Linked DNA regions of Homo sapiens. The protein of the gene in region 1 interacts with the protein of each later gene in a pairwise test. Each region holds a gene or a part of one and is shown on either strand. Other genes may lie near its edges.

What was found. The genes of interacting proteins can lie anywhere in the genome.
Region 2: the proteins of ZNF333 (region 1) and GSN interact in binary tests that used the Homo sapiens proteins (3 or more experiments, as listed by UniProt).
Region 3: the proteins of ZNF333 (region 1) and LAMP2 interact in binary tests that used the Homo sapiens proteins (3 or more experiments, as listed by UniProt).

The regions. Positions count from the first base shown.
Region 1 is NC_000019.10:14,713,329-14,721,745, forward strand, and holds part of ZNF333 (zinc finger protein 333), read left to right. Parts: intron 1-2,053; coding exon 2,054-2,142; intron 2,143-2,783; coding exon 2,784-2,910; intron 2,911-3,665; coding exon 3,666-3,761; intron 3,762-4,328; coding exon 4,329-4,405; intron 4,406-4,840; coding exon of another isoform or gene 4,841-4,899; coding exon 4,900-5,997; 3' UTR 5,998-8,417. UniProt on the Homo sapiens protein: May be involved in transcriptional regulation.
Region 2 is NC_000009.12:121,313,086-121,320,956, reverse strand, and holds part of GSN (gelsolin), read right to left. Parts: intron 7,024-7,871; coding exon 6,934-7,023; intron 3,872-6,933; coding exon 3,739-3,871; intron 2,552-3,738; coding exon 2,463-2,551; intron 2,293-2,462; coding exon 2,077-2,292; intron 1-2,076. UniProt on the Homo sapiens protein: Calcium-regulated, actin-modulating protein that binds to the plus (or barbed) ends of actin monomers or filaments, preventing monomer exchange (end-blocking or capping).
Region 3 is NC_000023.11:120,451,502-120,459,372, forward strand, and holds part of LAMP2 (lysosome-associated membrane glycoprotein 2 isoform A precursor), read right to left. Parts: intron 5,269-7,871; coding exon 5,150-5,268; intron 4,070-5,149; coding exon 3,856-4,069; intron 1-3,855. UniProt on the Homo sapiens protein: Lysosomal membrane glycoprotein which plays an important role in lysosome biogenesis, lysosomal pH regulation and autophagy.

The sequences.
Region 1 (8,417 bases):
TCTATGGTTGGAAGCTCTGACCTCTGGACCTCATTTTGGGTACCTTCTATTCCTGTTCCCTTAGATGGGCAGAAAGATTTGAGCCAATGGTTGGATACATGGTCTGGTGTTCAGATGTGAGAGTCAGCCTGGAGATTTGGGCTTCATCATGAAGTTTGGGAATTGACACCCAGAGAATGGGTGAGGTTGCACACCAAGGCAGAGAGAATTGAGGGAGACACGAAGAGGAGGGCCTGCAACCTGTGGACGCCAGCAACATGTTGGAGAAGAAGCTCTTACAGGAAAAAGAGGAGGCTGGGGTTGTGATCACTGATCACAGGCTGGGTGGGCTACAAGAAGGAGGGATTGGCTAGGTGCAGTGGCTTGCAGCTATAATCCTGGCTACTCAGGAGGCTGAGGTGGGAGGATCGCTTGAGGCTAGGAATTCAAGGCTAGCCTGGGCAACATAGTGAGACCCCCATCTCTAAAAAAATAAAAAAAAAATTAACAGGGTGTGGTGGTGCACACGTGTAGTCTCAGCTACTTGGGAGGCTGAAGTGGGAGGATCACTTGGGCCCAGGAGTTTGAGGCTGCAGTGAGCTGTGATTGTGCCACTGCACTCCAGCCTGGGTGACAGAGCAAGACTCTGGCTCAAAACAACAACAAACCCAGGAGAGATTGGATGATGAGCACACATCAGTGGGATTTCCCAGCACGGATGGAGGTCACTGGTGATTCCAGGGTGGTGCCAGCCCTTGGAACGGTGGAGATGGGAAGCAAGTGGGAGGGGAGGAAGTGGGCACAGAGGGTAGATAGCCCATGATAGGGAATGAAGAGATAGAGGTAGCCCAAGGGAAAAGTGGGGTGTTATGGCTTGAATTGTGCCCCTCCAAAAAGACATGCTGAAGTCCTAACCCTGTGAATGTGGCCTTATTGGAAATAGGGTCTTTGCAGCTGTAACCAAGTTAGGAGGTCACAAGGTTGGGCCCCAATCCAACATGACTGTGTCCTTATGAGAAGAGGAAGACGCCACGTGAAGACAGACACGCAGGGAGGGGACCGTGCGACGGTGGAGGCAGACATTGGAGTGATGCATCCACAAGCCAAGGAGCCCCAAGTGTCGATGGCCGCCACCAGAAGCCAGGGAGGGGCAAGGAAGGACTCTTCTCAGAGCGTCAGAGGAGGCGTGGCCCTGCTGAGCTTAACTTTGGACTCCTCGTCTCTAAAACTGCGAGAGGATACATTTCTGTGGTTTTAAGCCACTCAGTTTGTGATACTTTGTTACGGCAGCTGCAGAAAACACATGTGGGGTCAGGGATTGGGTGTGGGTCAGGTTTAAAAAAAGTGAGGGGAAAGGTCCCATCGGGAGGGAGAGGTGAGGATGCAGGGGATGAGGGATGATCTGGGAGTTGCTTGCTTGTCTGTCATAGGCCAGAAGGAGGATGCCTGGTGCAGAGCGAGGAGTGGTGTTGATTTGAAGGCAGGTGGGAAGGAAGTTTCTTTTTAAGGCAGACTTGCAGGTTGGTTGTGGTTTATCTGCCCTTGATTTGTGGTAAGTCCTGGAGCACCACTAGCCCTGCAGTGTAGAGGGGCAGAGAAAGGGGCCAGGCAGCCGGGGAGGAAAAGCTGTCCCAAAGCTGAGTCGGGACAGTGGTGGGGGCTGCAGGAGCTTTGGAGTCTCCTGGTGAATTATGGAGTCTATGGCTCTTGGGATATGGAATGAAGGCGTGCGTGTGTGTGTGTGTGTGTGTGTGCACGTCTATATGTCTCTTTGTGTGCTGGTCTGTGTGTATATGTTATATATATGAACAGGTGCATGTGGTATGTAACTGTGTATATGTGTGCGTGTTTGTGTGTATATGTGTGCATGTCTGTGTACGTGTGTGCATGTGATTGCATGCATGCGTGTGCAAGAGCTTGCAGATATGTGTCTGCATGTGTGTGTCCCTGTGAGTGTGTGCATGTGTGTGTGTACACATGTGATCACTCACAGCCAGGGTGGGCAGACTTGGGGCCTGTGAGTGTGCCCAGTAGGCCAGGCACCAACCCTCATGCCTCTTCCCTTCTCCCCTAGCTGTGCCTGCACGTGACCCTGCCTGGCTTCAGGAGGACAAAGTGGAGGAAGAAGCTATGGCTCCTGGGCTGCCAACCGCCTGTTCACAGGTAGGTAAGAACTTCTTGTTCTAAAAGAACACTGCTGTGCCCAAAGGCTGGACTTACCTTCTTCCTGTGACCTGTCTGGATCATCTCATAGGGTTGGTCTCCATGCTTTCAGGGACTGGGCCTCTTGCAGTGGGTGTCAGCAAGGGAGCATGGGCCATGATCCCACCACCTCATTCAGACCCTCCCCAGGCTGCTGAGCACCAGGAGGGAAAACAAAGCAAGGATGTCAGCTGTCCTCATTTTGTGGTCTTCATGGTCTCACTGAACAAAGAGTTGAGTCATTTTCCAGATAGTTCCCTCTTGCCTGTACCATGCTCAGGTCTGCTGGACCCTGGAGCTAGAAGGGGGACAAATCTGTAAGAGCTTCCTGGCTCCTTGTCAATAGATAAGTCCTGTCCAGAGGTCGAGGACTTGCAACATTAGTTATTGCCTCTTGCTGTTCTTACTTAAGGAGTGGAGAGTAGAGAGAGGAGTTCTAGTTCAGAGTCCTGAGCTAAGGGCCAGATTCTGCGGGATCTCAGAACCCTGTCTGAAAGTCCTCTGCCTGGGTTTTCCCTTCCCCAGGCTTGCCAGCCTCCAGCATCCTCTGGCGTACTGGTGGGGGTGGTCCCTGGCTGAGCCGGGATGGATGTGTGTTTTAGGAACCAGTCACCTTTGCAGATGTGGCTGTGGTGTTCACCCCAGAAGAATGGGTGTTTCTGGACTCTACTCAGAGGAGCCTGTATAGAGATGTGATGCTGGAGAACTACAGGAACCTGGCCTCTGTGGGTAAGGCAGCTTCATCTTTTCTTTCCTTTTTTTTTTTTGAGACAGAGTCTTGCTCTGTTGCCTAGGCTGGAGTGTGATGGCGTGACCTTGGCTCACTGCAACCTCCGCTTCCTGGGCTCAGGTGATCCTCCCACCCCAGCCTCCCGAGTAGCTGGGACCACAGGGTGCATCATCACACCTGGCTAATTTTTGTATTTTTTTGTAGAGATGGAGTTTTGCCATGTTTCCCAGACTGGTCTCGAACTTCTGGGCTCAAGTGATTCACCTGCCTCAGCCCCACAATGTGCTGGGATTGCAGACATGAGCCACTGTGCCTGGCCAAGGCTTTGCCTTTTCATCACATTTATGTACCAACCATAAGCTCTAGAAATTGTGCAAGTCTGGGAAACCTAGTGGTGAAAAAAAAGATAATTCCCACCTTCATGAGCTTCCAGTCTACTTACTGGCCTTTCTATGGAATGAAGATCTTTTTACTGCCCTGTCTTTCTGTGACTAAAAGTTTTTGGGCTTCTCAAAGGTATTCCTTAGCTAGGCCCTTGGTTTTGTAGACCGGAGAGCCTCAGTGTCCTCTGAGACCTAGTGAGGGAACTTGTATTTAGTTGCTCAGTGGAAGAGTTTGGCTGTGGCCATCAGAATTTAGGCACATGCATTTTGCCACTCCCATCTCTAGAGCCCCTAAAGACTTGAGAATATCGGCCCTGGTGTCAGGGCATGGCACAGTCCTCGCACAACATGTGTTTTTTTCTCATGAGCAGCTGATCAACTGTGCAAACCCAATGCGTTGTCTTATTTGGAAGAAAGAGGAGAGCAGTGGACCACTGACAGGGGCGTCCTCTCAGACACCTGTGCAGGTGAGCCCAGGCAGATCAGGTGAGCATCAGCTCTGGTCAGTAAGGGGAGTGTCCAGTTTGGAAACTGTCTTATCAGGGCAACCTATTCATACCTTTGACTGAGAAGCCTGTTTGGTTGAGCTCCCTTATTAAATGCCACCTTCTTTCCTTTTTCCCTTTCCTTTTTAATCTCTAAAACTTTGCATTCATCTCCTAGAAAGATCTGTCCTACTTTCTCTTCATATTTAATATTTCCATGTGTATATTTTATCCATTTCCTCCCCACTGTACATTCTTGCTAATATTTTTCCTCAACATTAGTCACAATCTTTGTAGAATCCTTTTTTGGTAAATTACCTACTATTTCCTTCCCATGTTCCTCTGATTACATAACTTCTCATCTAGCCACACACCTTAAAATTTTCCTTAACTTTTAGATGCATTCCTTCTCATTGCAATTTCTTCCCGTACATAGGACCAGTATTTGGGAAAAAAAGTCCACATGTGCCTTGCCTACTTTTGAGGTGACCTTGATCCCACAGTTTCTTTCTCTGTGTGCTTAACTTTTTCTTCCCTAATTCATTTCAGAACCTCAGTGTCAACCCCAAGAGGCAATTCCTAGCCAAGATACTTTTACAGAGATCCTGTCCATTGATGTGAAAGGGGTAAGGCTCACCAGGGATTATTCATGGTTCTCTATAGTAGGATGAGTCTGGGGTTAACCGTAAGTTAGAAAAGCAGCCCAAGAGCCAAGAGCGATTCGAGGCAAGAAGTGTTTACCCAGAAGGAAGCAGTTTCTTGGGAGAGAGTCCGTGAATGTCATGAATTGGTGGAAAACTAAATGTAGATCATGTTCGTACAAGTAAGCATTTTCACAGATATGACACATACAAAGTGTTTAAGACTTAATTTAGCCTTACACAAATTGGAAAAATTCTGCATCTAAGAAGCTGCATGAAAATAATGAAAAGATAGCTCTTTGCAACAGAGTATCCACCCTATTCCACTTGAAGGAACTCTGGATAGAAATGGTATGGACTCCATAAATGGTAAAAGTATCAGATATAGAACTGTCTTTTTCTTACATTCATTTCACATAGGGGAGAATATCTGTGAATCTAATAAGGCCTTTGGTCTTCACATTTTCCTTCATCGACAGGAGCAACCTCAGCCTGGAGAAAAACTCTATAAATATAATGAACTTGAGAAACCTTTTAACAGCATTGAACCACTTTTCCAGTACCAGAGAATTCATGCTGGAGAGGCATCCTGTGAATGTCAAGAGATTAGAAATTCCTTCTTCCAGAGTGCCCACCTAATTGTGCCCGAGAAAATCCGTAGTGGGGATAAATCCTATGCATGTAACAAATGTGAAAAATCCTTCAGATACAGCTCTGACCTTATCAGGCATGAGAAGACTCATACTGCAGAGAAGTGCTTTGACTGTCAAGAATGTGGGCAAGCCTTCAAATATTCCTCGAATCTCCGGCGACACATGAGAACCCATACCGGAGAGAAGCCATTTGAATGTAGTCAGTGTGGGAAAACCTTCACGAGGAACTTTAACCTGATTTTGCACCAGAGAAACCACACAGGAGAGAAGCCCTACGAGTGTAAAGATTGTGGGAAAGCCTTCAATCAGCCATCATCCCTCAGGAGCCACGTGAGAACTCACACTGGAGAGAAGCCCTTTGAATGCAGCCAGTGTGGGAAAGCCTTCAGGGAACACTCTTCACTGAAGACACATCTGCGAACCCATACCAGAGAGAAACCATATGAATGCAACCAGTGTGGCAAGCCCTTCCGGACGAGCACTCATCTGAACGTGCACAAGAGGATACACACAGGGGAGAAACTGTATGAGTGCGCGACTTGCGGTCAGGTCTTGAGTCGTCTTTCAACCCTGAAGAGTCACATGCGAACTCACACTGGAGAGAAGCCCTATGTGTGCCAGGAATGTGGGCGAGCCTTCAGTGAGCCCTCATCCCTCAGGAAACATGCAAGGACTCACAGTGGCAAGAAGCCCTATGCATGCCAGGAATGCGGGCGAGCCTTTGGTCAGTCTTCACATCTTATTGTACATGTGAGAACACACAGTGCCGGGAGACCCTATCAATGTAATCAGTGTGAGAAAGCCTTCAGGCACAGCTCCTCACTCACTGTACACAAAAGAACCCATGTGGGAAGAGAGACCATTAGGAATGGCAGCCTGCCTTTATCCATGTCTCATCCATACTGTGGGCCCCTTGCTAATTAACTTCCATTTTGTAAAAATATAAACACATGGGGCTATGACTTTCCCTCGTAATACTCCTTTAGCTGCATCCTGTGTTTCAATGTATAATATTTTCATTTTGGTTTAATTGTAAGTATTGTCTTAACCTCCATTATCGTTTATTCTTTGACCCATCTATTATTTGGAATTAGATTTTTCAAAACTAATATGTGGATATATTTTCATAGAGGTATAATGACTTATAGTGAAATGCATACATCTGAAGTGTACAGTTGGATGAGTTTGACAGATGCATACATGCATGTAACCACCACCCCATTCCAGATATAGAATGTTTCTATCTCTCTGGAAGGTTCCTGCATGTTATATGGCTATTTCTTAGTTGCCTTTTTGTTGTTGGTTTCTAATTTAATTACATGGTGAGAAGAGTATGTGGCCTCTTTGTTACTGAGTCATAGGTATTTGCTGAGATTTGCTATTAGGTCTGGTGTGGCTTATTCTTCTAGCTGCCAACCCAAATTACCCCTTCCTCCTTAGAAAAGAACCTGGGTTTTCTGTTCAGATTGGCAGTGTGCACTATTAAAAAGCTTCCATCTCCCGGCTGGGCACGGTGGCTCATGCCTCTAATCCCAGCACTTTGGGAGGCTGAGGCTGGGGGATCACCTGAGGTCAGGAGTTCGAGATCAGCCTGGCCAACATGGTGAAATCCCCTCTCTACTAAAAATATAAAAATTAGCCAAGTTTGGTGGCATGCACCTGTAATCCCAGCTACTTGGGAGGCTGAGGCAGGAGAATTCTTTGAACCCAGGAGGCAGAGGTTGCAGTGAGCCGAGATTGCGCCACTGCACTCCAGCCTGGGCAACAGAGTGAAACTCTGTCTCAAAAATAATAATAATAAAAAAAAGCTTCCATCTCCCAGCCCTTCTTGCAAGCAAGGGCAGGCCATTTCCTCCGGTCCTGGCTAGTATGAATATGAGAAGTCACTGGATGTGACTCTGGGGAAGATATTGTGTTCAGGGATGGTTTCATGTAGCCACATCTCTCCACTTCTTGCCTTTTGGACAAGTAGACATGATTTCTAGACCTAGAGGAGCCCTCCTGTGACCATAAGGGTAAAAGCCGCAAGCTAAGAAGAGGGTGGCCGGAAGTCATAACCATCTTGCTTCTGTAATCTAAAAAATATTTAGGATAGATTTAATAGAATTGGCATATTTATGTGATTGCAGCAGCCCTGGACTATTTATTTCTGGATGTCCCATACATGAAAAATATGCACTTCTTACTGGTACAGTTTTCTTTTGTTTGTTTTTGTTTTTGGTGGGAGGTTTATTTCACCTGAATATAATTCCTAACTGATGCACTTAGTATATGTCAGTTTTTATAAATGCTTCATGGATGGTTGAAATCAATGTATTGTATTCTACAAATGTCTGCTAGATCAAGCAAATGTGTTTAAAAACCATCTACACATTTATAAATGTTGATCTGTGATCTAGCATTTATTGAGAGAGGTATGTTAAACTCTCCCACCATGATTATGTATTGCTGAAAAATCTTTGTCATTCTGTCAGTTTTTAAATTTATGTATATACATACATATATATGTTTTGAAGCAATGAAATTAAATATAGATACTGACATTTTTTACATTTCCAACAAATTGTTACTTTTATTCTTATAAAGTGATCATCCTTTTCCCTATTACTGAACATTCAACCATTCATTGTAATGATAGTAAATACTTATTTAGAGTTTACTATTAATAGATAGTAGCCACTGCCTGAAGCTTTGCATCTTTTAATTTAGTCCTCACACTGACACTTTGAGGTATGTACTGTTATCCCCAATTCCCAGATGAGGAAGCTGAGGCCCAGCAAGTTAAGGTGGGCTATCAAAGTCATCTGGGTGGCATGTGACAGGCCTGACTCTCTCTACAGTGGCAGACCCAGGGGACTAGTCTCCATTTTTACTTGTTCTTTTTTTTTTTTTTTTTTTTTTTTTGGTTTTAAAGTTCTCTTAGGTATAACTTACATAAACGTTAATAAATCTTAGGGTACACCTTGGTGAATTTTGTATATGTCTATACCCACCACGGTCTCCATCAAAATATTTTATCGTCCCAGAAATTTCCCTTGGGCCCCACCTCATCCTCAAAGGTTATCACTATTCTGATGTCTATCACCATAGATTTGTTTTTCCTGTTCATGTAAATGGAACCATAAACAGCCCTCTTGTGTCTGTTTTCTTCACTTAATATAGTGTCATTGAGATTTATCTATGTTGTATTATCAGTAGTTTATGCTTTTTAATTGCTGTGTAATAGTCCATAGTCTGAATATACCACAATTTAAAAATTCTATTCTGTTTACAAACATTTGAGTTCTGTCCTCCAGGTTCATCCATGTTATCACAAATGACAGAATTTCCTTCCTCATCAAGGC
Region 2 (7,871 bases), on another chromosome or scaffold:
CCCCAAATCAGGCCCCTCATCCCCTTCCGGGCCATGAGACCTCAGACAACTGGCTTAACCACTCTTAGCCTCAGTTTTCCCATCTGAAAAATGGGGATAATCATAGTACCTACCTCAAAGTACTGTGAGGCTCAAACGAGATTACTCGTGAAAGTCTAGCACAGGGCCCGGCACAAAGGGACTGCTCTGTAGGTGGCAGCTGCTCTTATTGTCATAATTATTATTATTATCTTACTAATATCACCATTACCTCTATTGTTACTGAGCTGCCTGGATTCTTTCTTTTTTTCTTTTTTTTTTTTTTGTTTTTTGAGACGAGGTTTCACTCTTGTTGCCCAGGCTAGAATGCAATGACGCAATCTCGGCTCACTGCAACATCTGCCTCCCGGGTTCAATCAATTTTTCTGTCTCAGCCTCCCGAGTAGCTGGGATTACAGGTGCCTGCCACCATGGCCAGCTAAGTTTTGTATTTTTAGTAGAGACGGGGTTTCACCATGTTGGCCAGGCTGGTCTCGAACTCCTGACCTCAGGTGATCCACCCGCCTCGGCCACCCAAAGTGCTGGGATTACAGGCGTGAGCCACTGTGCTGGGCCTGCCAGGAATTTCATAGGTCACCTGCAGAGGCAGGGACACCACGAGGCAACCTCAGTGTGACCCCTGCTGGCAGGTCTCCGCAGCGTTCTGGTGACACTGCTTTTTCCAAGTGGTCACGAGGCCCGGCAGCGCCACCTGGTGGAGCTATGGAGACACGGAGTCGTCCAAGTCCTGGGAAACAGAATCCTAGAATCTCTGGATTTTGAACATTCTTGAAGGTGATGGAGTGGGATGAAACCCCACTTTACAAGTGAGAAAGTGAAGCTCAAAGAGGTTATGTAACTTGCCCAAAGTCTCACAGTCAGGCTGCCAGGGGTCTTACCACACCGCCCCACCCGAAATATTTTCATTGCATTCTCCCTAGCCACTGAAGCAACAAATGAATGCTAGCACCAAACCAAAAACAATAATATATAAAAATGAACACTTTGTTATTCCTATCATTAGGAACGGAGTCAAGTTTGCCTGAGGCGGATTCTACCTCCTAAACACCTCTGAACCCCACACCCCTCTTCCCCTTCTCCACTGTGACCTTCTTAGTCTCAAGGTCATCATCTTTCCCCTACAGTATTAGAACAAGCTCCTTATAAGCTCTCTACCTTCATTTTCCTGCCTCCAATCCATTTTCTTAGTTTTCTTTTTATTTTTCTTTTATTTATTTTTTAACTGATTTTTTTCTTCTAATGATATCCTGGAGTCATATTCCAACCCATTTTCACAGTGAGTTTCTAAAGCAGGTGGCCGGGCGCAGTGGCTCATGCCTGTAATTCCAACACTTTGGGGGGCCGAGGCAGGAGGATTGCTTGAGCCCAGGAGTTTGAAATTAGCCCGGGCAACATAGCGAGACCCTGTCTCTATTAAAAAAAAAAAAAAAGATAAAGCATAAATCTGAGCCTGTTGCATGTCTGATTTAATAAAAAGAAAAACCCCTCACTAGCACCCACTGGTTAGAGGATCAAGTCTACACCCTTGAAATTGGCATTCAAGGCCCCTCCCTGGGGATGCCATCAGCACTAGCCCCCTGGGATAGCTCCCTCCTTTCCGAACATAGCGAGTCCCTCCTGGAATGCCCATCACTCTCCGCTCTTCCTCTCCGGCAGCAAAGCTCTACTCCTCCTCTGAGACCCAACCCAAAGGTTCCCATCTCTGTGCAGGCTGCCCTGACCAACCACCCCCACTGCTTCCTGTGTCTGCACAATCCCCTGTGCTCCCTCCCATCTTCCACTGATCACACAGGTCTGTGGCTATGGTCAACTCCCCTCCCAGACCAGGCACTCCTCGGGGCAAGGTGGGGCCAAGACACTTGGCTCAGGGCCTGATACACAGGGTGCATTGGCTGTAAAAACTAAGTAACACCAAAGAATCTCAGCTACCAAAGTTGTGCAAACCTCAGAGAGAAACCTCCTTGGGGAAGCAAGAGGCAGTGCATGGGGAAAGTGAGGGAGGGGCCTGGACACACCCACCCCACGCCCTAAACGTACCTGTTTCTGGCCTGTGCCATCGTCATCCATGCCGTGCTGGGCGGCCATGGCAGTGGAGGTGTGCAGGGTGGCGGCGTCGAAGGGCACCCGCTCCACGTTGGCGATATGGCTGGAAAGGTAGGACAAGCCCAGGCCATCTGTCTGGTCTGGGTCCCGCCAGTTCTTGAAGAACTGCTTGAACAGTGGGGTCTCACCGCCCTCAGGAAGGACCGAGACCTGGGGAGGGGAGGCAGAGGAGCAGGATGTGGCTGGGCTGCCCAGCAGGGGTCCCCAGGGGAGCCTCAGATACCCCATCCACACTGAGGGTGGGACACCCGCCCTACTCCAGCCCATCCCCTCCAAACAGGACCCACCCCTTCCCATCCTACCTGGCCTCCAAGACTCACCTGAGTCTGCTTGGGGTAGTCCATCTTGGTGATGAAGTCAGAGGCTGTTTTGAGGGCAGCCTTCCTCTCCTCCGTGTTTGCCTGCTTGCCTGTTGGCAGCCAGAGGAAGTGATGGAGGGTTAGAGGCCCGGGATCCTGCTGCATCCTGACCTTTAACAGTCCAGGAGAAGGAGCTGCCAAACTTCCCTCCCTACTCTTCTTAGACTGTGGACAGCCAAGGCCAGAGACCCCCAGAGCCGACCACTCACTAGAGCTCCTGGTGTCCAGCCTGGGGCTGGCCAGTGACACCAATCACAACACTACTGTGGTCCATTTAGTGAGCATGTATTTTGTGCTTAGAACTATGCATAGATTATTTAATTCACAGAATAGTCTTAAGTAATAAAAAAAGTTGTTATCTTTTTCTGAGTATCTATAAGGAAGCTAGGGTCTTAGAGAGATTAAATTACTTGACCTAGGTTACTCAGTGAGTGAGAAGCTGCCACCCTGAGGGCATTCCCGTGCCAAGGAGCTCCTGGCCAGCCAGTGCTGGGCCTCAGTCCCAGCCTTCTCACTGCCAAGGCCAAGGTCCAGATCAGCTGGCCCAGGGCCCAGGGGGCCTAGAGAGTAATAATCATAATAGTGTCTCTCTCTCTCTCTTTCTCCCCACCGTCTCCCTTTCTCTCTGTCCTCCTACTGCCTCCCTCTCCTCTGTCCTCTTCCCCAAGATGAGCCTTAGAGAATCAGGGGAGGATATTGATGGGTCCTCTCAGAACATCTCAGGGCCTCTGGGAAACATCTGGGCCAATGGTTTCCAAGAGAATTCCCACAAGATAGTACCGAAAGAGTTTATGAACTTCTAGCTTAGCATTTCCCAAACCAGATCATCTTCATGAAAAGCCCCCCTGTAAATGAACAAGTTAAAAGTCCTACAGTAAACAAACTCGAACATTTTAAAATCCACTGTTGCCCATGAATTTATCTGACCATACAGTTAGATGTTTTCTACATAATTTCTACAGGATGCCAATTAGCCTCTCAGAGAACTGACGTTATAATGCACTTGGGAAACACCCATTTTAGCCCAGATCAGGAATCTGAGGCCCAGAAAGGGTAAGTAAAGTGCCCAAGATCACACAGTATGTCAAATGCAAAACCAAGGCCTCAGCCCAAGACTTCTGATTTCCATTGCACCAGGCACACTCCACACTCCCCGGGAGCTGAGTTCCTGGGAGCTGCAGAACATCCCATCCAAGATCCTACAGGCCAGTTGGGACCCTTTCCCTGTCTCCAGTACCTTTCCAGACAAAGATTTTCCCATCTTTGCCGTGGTCCAGGATGAAGCAGTCCTCTGACTTCAGGGCCCCCTGGGCGAAGGGGTTCTCATCAGCCACGAGGGAGACGGACATGGTCCCTGCACCATTGGAGACCTGAGGGGACGAAGCAGAAGGAACCAGCACATGAGTGTCTGTGGCCGCCCAGCCCTGAGACTTCCACCATCTTGCCCCACCCCCTGTCCCAAATGGCCCTGTAGAGTAACACCTGGGCTTCCTCTCGCACACATTTAGAGGTTCTTTTTCGTTTTCTGCTTTGTCAGAACCACATCTGCTGACCTACACGCAGGGGTAACACAAACTGCACATGGGAAGGGAGGGCGGGATAAAATTTGGGGAATTGGGTGCAGAGGGGAACTGCATAGTTTGCTGAAAATGTATTCAACTTTACTATTCAAAAAAAAGAGAAGAGGCCGGTTACAGTGTCGCACACCTTTAATCCCAGCGCTCTGGGAGGCCCAGGTGGGTGGATGGCTTGAGCCCAGGAGTTCAAGACCAGCCTGGGCAACATGGCAAGATCCCATCTCTACAAAAAATACAAAAAGTAGCAAGGTGTGGTGGCGCTTGCTTGTGGCCCCAGCTACTTGGGAGGCTGAAGTGGGAGGATCACTTGAGCCCAGGATGTCGGGGCTATAGTGAGCTATGATTGCGTCACTACACTCCAGCCTGGGTAACAGAGCCAGACTCTGTCTCAAAAATAAATAAGTAAATAAAAGAGAAGAAAAGAAAAAGAAAAGTAAAAAGAGCTAAATGCAATCTGGTATCCTGGATTGGAACCTAGAATAAAAAACTGGGGAAATCTGGCTAAAGTCTATAGTTTAGTTAATGGTACTGAAGCAATGTTAATTTCTTAGTTTTGACAAATGTACCTGGTTATGCTAAGATGCTAAGGAGAAGCTGAGTGAATGGTATATAGGAACTCTTTGTACTATCTTTACAATTTTTCTGTAAACTTAAAAATTATTCTAAAATAAAAAGTTCAACCAAGCTCAAAAAAAAGTTCTATCTTAAGAGTCAAAATTCAAAAGTTTAACAATATCCAGTTGGCAAGGCTCTGGGTAAACAGGCATTTAAGATCCCTGATGACAGTAATTTGGGAGCTGTTCCAGAGTACAGTTGACTGTGAGGTAGCAGTCCTTTAAATAATAATTATTCTACATGAATTGAGTACTTACTACTCTGTGCCAGTCACTGTTCTAAGCAATTTCTATAACTTGTATAATTATAGAACCCCTTTAATCCTTGCATATGATAGTTCTGTTACTATCCCTGTCTCATTCACAAGGAAACCAAGGCACAGAGTGGTTAAGGAACTTGCACAGCTAGAAATAGCTGACCTGGAATTCAAACACAGGTAGTCTGACTCCTGACTCCAAAACCAGTATTTTCTTTTTTTATTTTATTTATTATTATTATTTTTGAGACGGAGTCTCACTGTTGTCGCCCAGGCTGGAGTGCAATGGCACTATCTCAGCTCACTGCAACCTCCGCCTCCCGGGTTCAAGTGATTCTCCTCCCTTAGGAGGAGAGCTAGGATTAGAGGCACCCGCCACCACGCCTGGCTAATATTTTGTATTTTTAGTAGAGACAGTGTTTCACCATGTTAGCCAGGCTGGTCTCGAACTCCTGACCTCAGGTGATCCGCCTACCTCGGCCTCTCAAAGTGCTGGGATTACAGGGGTGAGCCACCATGCCTGGCCCAGAACCAGTATTTTCAACTACTGACTCATTCTTCGGCCTGTGACCAGCAGTTCCTTGTCTAGGAACTTGCCCTAGTGCTATGCTGTACTTAGCACAAGTGCACCAAGAGGGACTGTCTGCAACTGGAAAAGGTGGAACATCCTAATGTCCATCAATCAGGATTTGCTTAAATTCTTACATTCATAAAATAAAATACTATACAGCTGTTATAAAGGGTCGTGTTGAGATTTATTATAGAAAGATATTCCCGACCATGTTGAGTGGAAAAAAGACCACACAACAGCATGAATAGTTTGGATCCAGTTACACAAAATAGAAATGGCCGGGAGCGTTGGCTCAGGTCTGTAATCCCAGCACTTTGGGAGGCTGAGGTGGGCAGATCACATGAGCCCAGGAGTTTGAGACCAGCCTGGGCAACATGGCAAAACCTCGTCTCTACAAAAAATACAAAAGTTAGCTGGGCGTGGTGGCGTACATCTGTAGTCCCAGCCACTTAGGAGGCTGAGGCAAGAGATCGCTTGAGCCCGGTAGGCAGAGGTTGCAGTGAGCTGTGATTGTGCCATTGTACTGCAGCCTGGGTGACAGAGCAAGACCCTATCTCAAAATAAAATAATAAGATGGAAATGGAAAAGTAACTAGGCACAGAAAGCTGTGGCTGGACAAAGATGTGTTCTCTCATGAGGAGGAGAGGCTGATTTTTTAACTGGGTATTGTCATTTTTGTAATTAAAACATATTTTAAAAGTAATACTGGTTTTTTAAACCAGTGAAATTGCATGGACTTTTATTTTCTTTTTATATTTTGAATACTTTTTTTTCTTACAATAAACATGTATTACTTCATAATCAGAAAAAAAATCGATAATGTAGTAGTTTTTCTTTGGCAGTGGTGAAAATCGACATCCCCTTTTTGTTGTTTTACTGAAAATACTTGGGGCACAACGTAAGTGTGATTGAGCTTTCTCCCAGAGCTCAGCCAAGAGAGTTCCCTAGCTGAAGCTAAGCCTGAATTCAGTTGTGAAAATCACAAGAAAGAAATCATAAATAAAGTCATTAACTATAACCCACACCCCCAACCTCCCCACATACACACCATTTCTGTAGTATTTCCCCAAGTATTTTCTAAGCTGTTTTCACATCCATTTTATCTGTGGACTCCCAGAAATCCTACAAAGTCGACCATTCTGCTCTTCTTCCCACTTTACAGACTAGGACACTGAGACTCAGAGAGACCTCATGTATGAGCGTGACACAGATATGTACGGAGTTGATCGCATGCTCTTAGTGCAGGAAAGCAAAGGAAGTACACGAGCATCCACTGGAGACGTGAGAAAGCTGAGGCCCCCCTCCAAAGGGGTGCTTTGCTCAAGGTCCCATAGCAGTGGAGTGGGGAAGACCAAGTCTTCCACCTCCCTGTCCTGACCCCATGCCCAGGCAGACAGTGCATCTGGTGCTCACCTTGTAGAGCTTGGCCAGCTTGCGGTTGGCCGCATCCTCCTTGGCGGTGTCCTCGGTACCTGCAGGCAGAGCCGGCTTGGGGCCCAGCACCTGTAGGAGATAGAGAGATGGAGAGGAAGGGTGGCTGTGAGGGAGGGGCCAGGCTCCTGAGATAGCTCCCAGGCAGGCAAGGATCACAAGGACATCCACTGTGACCCTCCCCATGGAGTCTGACCTCCTCCAGACACATCCTGCATCTGCTCACATGTCCAGATCTGTCCATCAGAGGTCCCTTCCACCTTGTCTCCCTGACTCAGAAACTCCAGGAGAACACTCCTGCTCCTCTGCCTCCAGACAGCGCTTCAGATATTTCGCCTACCGGCTAATTGTGATAACTATAGCTACTGAACACCTTCTACCGCCTACCTTTAAAAGATGTCACTGCATCCTCGCAGCCAGGCCAGGAGGCACAGATTATCACTCTCATTTTACAGAAGAGGAATCTGAGGTCCAGAAAGATGAAGTCACCTACTCACACAGCTATTAGGTGGCTAAGCCAGAATCTGAACCTCCATCCCTGTGGCTTCAGAGCCTATTTTCACTCCCACTGTCCCTCCCAAGCCATGGTTGGTGTCCAGGTCCCTTCCCATAATAATAATCACCATTCTGCTCTCTCCAAAAGCTGGAATTGGATGCCCCCAGAGAAGCAGGAACCAAGTGACATGGAGCAGAGCTCATGGTCTTCTCCTTTTCCTAGTGAATCTTGCCTCTATTGATACGTCCTCAACGCACAATGGCTGGCAATCCCACCATGTGACTAAATGGGCCAAAAACTACCAGAAATAGTCAGAAGAGAAAAGAGGGGATTGGGGCTCAGTGGTCTCTTTCTGACCTTATTCTAGCACAAAGCTGGCCCTCTGGGGATGCTAAGAGACTGCCCTCCTTAGCTCTGCAGAGGA
Region 3 (7,871 bases), on another chromosome or scaffold:
TTGCCCAGGCTAGAGTGCAGTGGCGTAATCTTGGCTCACCGCAACCTCCGCCTCCCAGGTTAAAGCGATTCTCCTGCTTTAGCCTCCTGAGTAGCTGGGATTACAGGCACGCACCACTACCACCCGGCTAATTTTTGTATTTTTAGTAGAGACAGGGTTTCACCATGTTGGCCAGGCTGGTCTCAATCTCCTGACCTCCAATGATCCACCAGCCTCAGCCTCCCAAAGTGCTGGGATTACAGGTGTGAGCCACTGCGCCCAGCCATAAATTAGTATTCTTGAAACACTGAACTATATCAAAAACAATTATTAATAGTCCATTTCAGGAAGCCATTTAACATTCCAAATAGTTTCAAATATTATTATATAGAAGGTAGTAATTTAAAAAGTAATCCTCCCTTTGTTTTAAATAAAAGGGGAAAGAGAGAAGTGTTAACATTTCAGGGTCCATAGTTTTTCTATCCAAATATGTCAGATTAAACACCTCCTCCTAATAACTGCTAACAACTGATGCCCCTGTAGTCCAGGCATTTATTACATCAGCCCTTGATTACTATAACAGCTTCTTAAGCCAGCATCTCTGCTTGTAGCCTCCTCACTTCTCAACTAATCCTGCAGAATATTCTTTATAAGCTACTGTCTCTGCTTTTGTTATATCATTCTCCTGCTTTAAAAACCTAAAATGATTCCCCAGTGCCTGCCCCATCAAGCTAAATGTCTTTCCTTGGCTTCCAAGGCCCCCTATAATTTAGGCCCACTTCATTTAGCCAACTTTATTTTCCTTCTGCTACACACACAGCCTGATTTAATCAGGCAGCTCTCCAATTACTGCCGCATATGCTATGCTTCCCCCTGCTGGAAACATCCTGCTCAAAATCCTCCGCTTACTCAAATTCTACCATTAGCTGAGTTTCAGCTCAGGTCCTACTTCTCTACCAAGCTTTCTCACTACTCTAACACACACTGAGCCTTCCTTTATCACTCCTCCTAATCAGGACCACTTGTGGGAACACGGGAACACTTTTAAATCAGCCAGTCTTTTCTTTTTCTTTTCTTTTTTTTTTGAGACAGGGTCTCTCTCTCTCTGTCACCCAGGCTGAGTGTAGTGGTGGGATCACAGCTCACTGGAGCCTCAACCTCCTGGGCTCAAGCGATCCTCCACCCTAGCCACCCAGGTAGCTGGGACCACAGGCACACGCCACCACACCTGGCTTTTTTTTTTTTTTTTTTTTTGTAGAGACAAAGTCTTAATATGTTGCCCAGGCTAGTCTTGAACTCCCTGGCTCAAGTGATCAGCCTGCCTCGGCCACCCAAAGTGCTGGGATTACAGGCATGAGCTACCATTCTCGACCTAAATCAGGCACTCTTAACCACAGGGATCTACATATGGGTTCAGGGACTATGTTCCATATGCAAAGTTTACTGTGTACTTTTTCTTTTTTGAGAGGGAGTCTAAAGTTTTCCTCACACTGTCAGAAGAGATTTATGAACCCTCTACTCCCTCAAACAAAAACGCAAACAACAACAACAAAATCAGACTGAGCTCAATGTTTTCCAATTTTTCCATGTAACTCGGGAATAGCATTTAGCTTTGTCTCCCCAGCTCATTCTTAGGCTACTTGAAAGTGAGGGGCATATCTTATACTAGCTCTGAAAGGCAAAACAGGGCACAAAGATAAACTGATAAGATAGCCAATAACCATTTGCTTTAGTTATACTCTCAAACTAAGAGATTAGTAAAAAGAACACTAGGATTTGATTTCCAAGTCTCATTCTGCAATACCTCCCAAATTTTACGTGAGCTTATTTACTTCTGGTTCTTTCGAATAGGATCTTTTGACATCCTTAAGTCCAAATGAGTTATTAATCCCCAGGTCTAGGCAACTAAAGCCCATCTACCTGTTTCTGGGGTCAGAATGAAACACTATCTGCAAAGAGCTAAGCTACTACAAATACCACATTAACTCAATCTCAACGGGCAGGGGGAGAAAGAAGAGAATTATATCCCTAACAAAATTAAAATCTCGACCACGTGCGGTGGCTCACGCCTGTAATCCCAGCACTTTGGGAGGCTGAGGTGGGTGGATCGTGAGGTCAGGATTTCGAGACCATCCTGGCCAACATGGAGAAACCCTGTCTCTACTAAAAATACAAAGATTAGCCGGGCGTGGTGGCACGCACCTGTAATCTCAGTTACTCAGGAGGCTGAGGCAGGAGAATTGCTTGAACCTGGGAGGCGGAGGTTGCAGTAAGCCGAGATCAGGCCACTGCACTCCAGCCTGGGCGACAGAGCGAGACTCCAGCTCAAAATAATAAAATAAAATAAAATCTCTACACTCTATATCTTCAAAATATTTTAACACGCATTTCAGTTCTGGGAATTACTAGAATGGCCTAATTGCCAATGCTTCCCAAGTTCATTTTGACCTGAAATTGTCTTAAAATAACAGCAAATGTTGACTTTAGTCTCCCCTTATCCACGGTTTTTGCTTTCCCTGGTTTCAGTTACCCATGGTCAATTGAGCTCTGAAAATATTCAATGGAGAATTCCAAAAGTAATCAATTCATAGGTTTTAAAATGTACGCCATTCTGAGTAGCATGATTAAATCTCTTGCTGTCCCGCTCTGCACAACCAGGAACATGAATCATCCCTTTGTCCAGTATATCAACGTTGTCTACACTATCCATCCGTTAGTCACTTAGTAGCCATGTCAGTTATCAGATCAAAAAAAAAAAAAAAACATAGCATTTCCTGTATAGGGTTTAGTAGTAACTGCAGTTTTAGGCATCTACGGGAGATCTTAGAATGATACCCCCTGAGTGTAATGAGGGACTACTACACCTTTAACTAATCATCATTTACTTTTCAATCAAAATCCAACCTAAATGATAAAAAGATTTGAACAAGAGGCATTTCTCCTAGTCTCAGGTTACTTAACTTTTACACATTTAAAATAGCTATTAGTAGCCAGGCACAGTGGTGCATGCCTGTAGTCCCAGCTATTCAGGAGGCTGTGAGGCATGAGGATCGCTTGAATCCAGGAGTTCAAAACCAGCCTAGGCAACATAGTGAGACACCCCCCCCAACCCCCGATCTTGAAAATAAAGTAGCTATTAGTAAAGCATTTTCTCATTCATCAAACCTTTGTTTCATGCACACTACTGAATGAAATCAATAATAGTTAAGTATATGAATTCTGCAGGTCAATAGACTGCTTCAAACACCAGCTCGCCCACTTACCAGACTGTGTGATGTTTGGAAAAGTCATTTAATCTTATCAAGCCTCATTTCCTTTACCTGTAAAAATGAAACAACATCTACTTCCCAGGGTTGCTGTTAAGAATTAAGTGAGATGCTGCAGGTAACACACTAGGTGTGTTACTGTATACTAGGAGATATATATATATATATACACACACACACACACTAGGATATATATATATATATATACACACACACTAGGATATATATATACATATATACTAGGATATGTGTGTATATATATACTAGGATATATGTGTATATATATATATACATATATACTAGGATATACATATATATGTATATATATACACATATATATGTATACTAGGATATATATAGTAAGGTGACTTACTGTATACTAGGATAATACCTGGTATACAGTAAGTCACTCAAGCAATGACAGCAAATATCATCAGTATGTTGGATGGTGTCATATGTGCCATGCATGGGGTCAGTGGGAGGGTTATAAAGACATGAAGTTTCCATGCTAGTTAGGAAGACAGACATTCATAACAATTTTAAAATTGTTTACATTTTTATCATTAATAAAAAGCAAGAGAACATAACACAAATCCATTCTTAAGGTTACCTTTATCTTCAGCATCAGGAAATGTTGTGTTATCACCAGTGTTGTAGGAAAATGAGACGCTGTCAATTGAATAAGTAGATGCTGCCTTGGTAAAATTCGCAATCCAGGAAAAGCCAGGTCCGAACTGCACTGCTATTTTGGGACCATTCTGATCATCCCCACAAATGCTTCCATTATATGTCACAGTGCCATGGTCTGAAATGGTTACAGTTTTCTAAAAGAAATAGAAATTTGGGGGTGAGAAACAAACAGGCAGCAAGGAACACCAAGCATTTATGTAGGGCATGCCACTTCAGCCTAAATCATACATTCTCCATGGCCAGGTTGCCCTTTGCCTGGTTTGCTGTGTAAACCAGTCCCTGATTCTTCTGCTACATACCACTCCTCTGGATAAATTCGTGTATGTCTAAAAAGAAAAGGAAAACTGGCTTGAGCTGCTGTTCTTAAACTGATTTTTTAAAAAATTAGGTTGTAAGTAGTGAGGACCTTAACAAAAAGAAAATAAGAAGGCAAAGGAATTAAGAGGAGATGTCAAAAAGGGGGAGATTTTAGTGTTAGGTTGGTGCAAAAGTAATTGCAGTTTGTGCCAAAAAAAAAAATCGCTTACTTAGGTTGGTGCAAAAGTAATTGTGGTTTGTTCCTTTAATGGCAATTACTTTTGTACCAACCTAAGTAAGCGATTTTTTTTTTTTTTGAGATAGAGTCTCGCTCTGTTGCCCAGGCTGGAGTGCAGTAGCACAATCATGGCTCACTGCAGACTCAACCTCCTGAGCTCAAGCAATCCTCCAGCCTCGGCCCAGCGAGTGGCTGGAGGTACATGTGTGTGCCACCATGCCTGGCTAATTTTTAAAGTTTTTTTGTAGAGATGAGGTCTCACCATGTTGCCCGGGCTGGGTTCAAGCAATCCTCCTGCTTTGGCCTTCCAAAATGCTGGGATCACAGGCATGAGCCACCATGCCCAGATGGGAAGCTGCTTTTTAAAAGGGCAAGCTTTGGTGCTAGTACATTTTAAACACTTTACAGAAATACTTAGACCTGAACACCATATAGTCGTCTTCAGATCATTTGCCCTTAATCAAGTCCTACAAAAACTCCCAAGAACCAATGAATCAGAAGAAATATTCATTCTAACACTAAACAGAATAACTTCTGAGTGTGTATGCTTAAAAAAAATCCCAGAGTTTCAGCATTAAGTCAGTCAACGTGGAATTTCATTTGTATACGTGTATCTAAAGGATAAAGTCAATTAAATTCCTACTATAAAACTCAAAGAAAAATTAAAATATATACTTACATAAGTTTTATTTGTAGTTTCATAGCGTACTGTGAAATTCATCTGCCATTTTGCATAAAGGCAAGTGGCATTTTCTGAATCTGTCAAATTAAGTTCCAATGCATAAGACCGCACAGCTCCTGGATTCATTTAAAAAAATAATATTTTAAAATTGTACTACAAAAATTATATAAATTAAAAACAAGCTCTACCCACCACTGAAGTTCAACCAGCTCTAAAATGAAACAAAAGTATTTTATATCTATATATACACATACATATATATACATATATGTGTATATACATATATGTATGTGTATAGATACAGTATCCTGCTGACTGTTTTTCTTTGTATTTTTAACAGAATCCTATTGATAAAAAAGTTGGCATTATCCCTTACCAAAAGAATGGTTACTAGACCTAGGATGCTTAGGTCATGGCTCAGACTGGTGACATTTATTTGCCTTTTGCCTTCAAATAATCATTTCCACATGCATTTATACCTTACTAGTTTTGTTTTAGGCAATTACAGTTTGCCTGTTAGGACTTGTGGTTTTTGCGGTAAATGAGGTAAGAGGAAGCCTGGTAGGGGTGTAAAACTTCTCTCAAACCAGCTGGTGAAACATTCACTGCAAAAATAATGATAGATCCGATATTCTACCATCTTTTTGCTTTAAATCCTGTTGCAAGCTACATAATCTATGACACACGGATGTCTTCCCAAACGATTTTATTCTGATGTGATCAGATACTCTTTCTATCATGTAACCAAGGAAGCAGAGTTGCAAAGGGCTGTTAAATCCATGAGAAAAACATGAATTCTGATAAATGCAAAGTTCATCACTGTTTCACTTTAAAATCGAATTGATTAGAAAGGCTGATGAATTTTTTGACGCAAAGTTATTTCCTAAATTTTCAACCTGCTACCTCTTTAGGCAGAGAAATGTTACAGAGACAGAAAAGCCTTGGAACTTTTCAGCTAACATGGTGGATCTTCTACACTTAAACATAGAAACATTATCTATTAAACTGAAGAGCCCAAGGACTCAAAATACTAATTCAGAGGAGAAAAAATATCCCAGCAAACATGCCAGCAGCATAAATATTGGGCAACCATTTAAGGGATTTTCTTCACTGTATCACACATTACCCAAAGGGTAAGCTGTTTCCTGTTAAGATACTTGCATACTCTTTAATAATATCTGAGCAATCCACTGTCATCTACAGGTACAGACTTGCTATAGACTAGAGAAAAGTGCTAAGAGGAATATCAAGAAGGTATGCCTCAGCAACAGCTTTCAAGTTGTATAGAAGAGCCTATCGTCATGCTCTGGAGACCTGGCTGCTTTGCAAGCCAGAATATTATACTAAAGCTTGTGGTTACTGACAGTGACTAAATGCATTGGCTAAGGCTCAAAAAGACCTTGTGAGGCCTAAGTAGGTTTTATGATCATTCTTTTCTAAGTACAATACGGAAGGGAGCTGTTATACTTACTGATCCAAGGCTCCCTGCCATGGAGCCAAGAGCTCCAACTTACAATTTTAATGAACTGGAGGTTTGCTTTTTATATGCAGTCTTTTCTCGGTCTTGTTTAAGGTCTCTAGCTTTAGTATATTATTCTCCTTGTATTCAAAACATTCAAAAGTATTGAAAATTACCAAGAAAAGCCTCACATGTATTAATCATTTTCTTTCCAAATATATTAGAATAACAGGAAGAAGACCATGTAAAATAGTAATAGCATCGATAGCTTGCATCAATGTGTCTTAGGGTGTGAGAACTGACGTTTTATGAAACAAAAGGTAGAGGTTGTGGTTCAAACGTATCACTTAAAATTAAATTCAAGATAGTATACCTGGTGGCCCGTAAACAAGAGCTGAGAAACACCCTGAGGGTTCTGGCACACTCTGTTCCATTCCCTTCACAGCCTTTCTGCCTGAGTGCAATTCTTTCCACTTCTTGGTCCCCAACTCTAACTGCACAGGGACCACTTTTACTCAATATCTCTCACCTCAAACTCAGCAATTCCCAAACTAAAATTCATTCTTCTGCTTCCTCCAAACTGGGTCCCTCCTCAGCTTTGCTAGCTCTAAATGAAGAGTGGGATCAGTCACTCAAGCTCAGTTTCAGAAATAGCCTCTACTTCTTTCTCTTCAAGAAGTCCTATTGATTTTTTTCCTTCAAATCTTCTCTTAAATACAATCTTTGTCTTTTATTTCTACTCCCAATCTATCACCCCACACCTAAATTATGACAGAAAATGCCTAGATACCCCTAGAAGTGCTGCCAGATTAATAATCCTTAAGTACCATTTCCTTTTAGGACACTTTCTTGTTCAAAAACTTTTACTGGCTCCAACATTCCCATATGAAATTTAAATTCCTCTGCCTGACTTTCAAAGTAATCTTTAATCTTGTCCCATCCTATTCCTTCAACTTTTCTCAAACTATTTTCCCAGAGCACACCCTTTAATCCAGTTAAACTTGTTTCCACTGGGCTCAAATGCCATACTCTATTCAACCTCTACCCTGGGCTTCTATTGTTCCTAACACTTGAAATCTACTTTCTTCTATTGGCCTAAATGCTCACCTCAAAGATGGATTTTGCTCGCTTTTTGGCTGCCCCAAATCTGAAACACCCCTTGTCCCCTTGTTACAATTTCTGGCAGAAATCACCACCCACTATAAAAGCTGAAAACACTGGATACTTGCTTTCCCAGACTCCCTTGCAGTAAGGAGGACC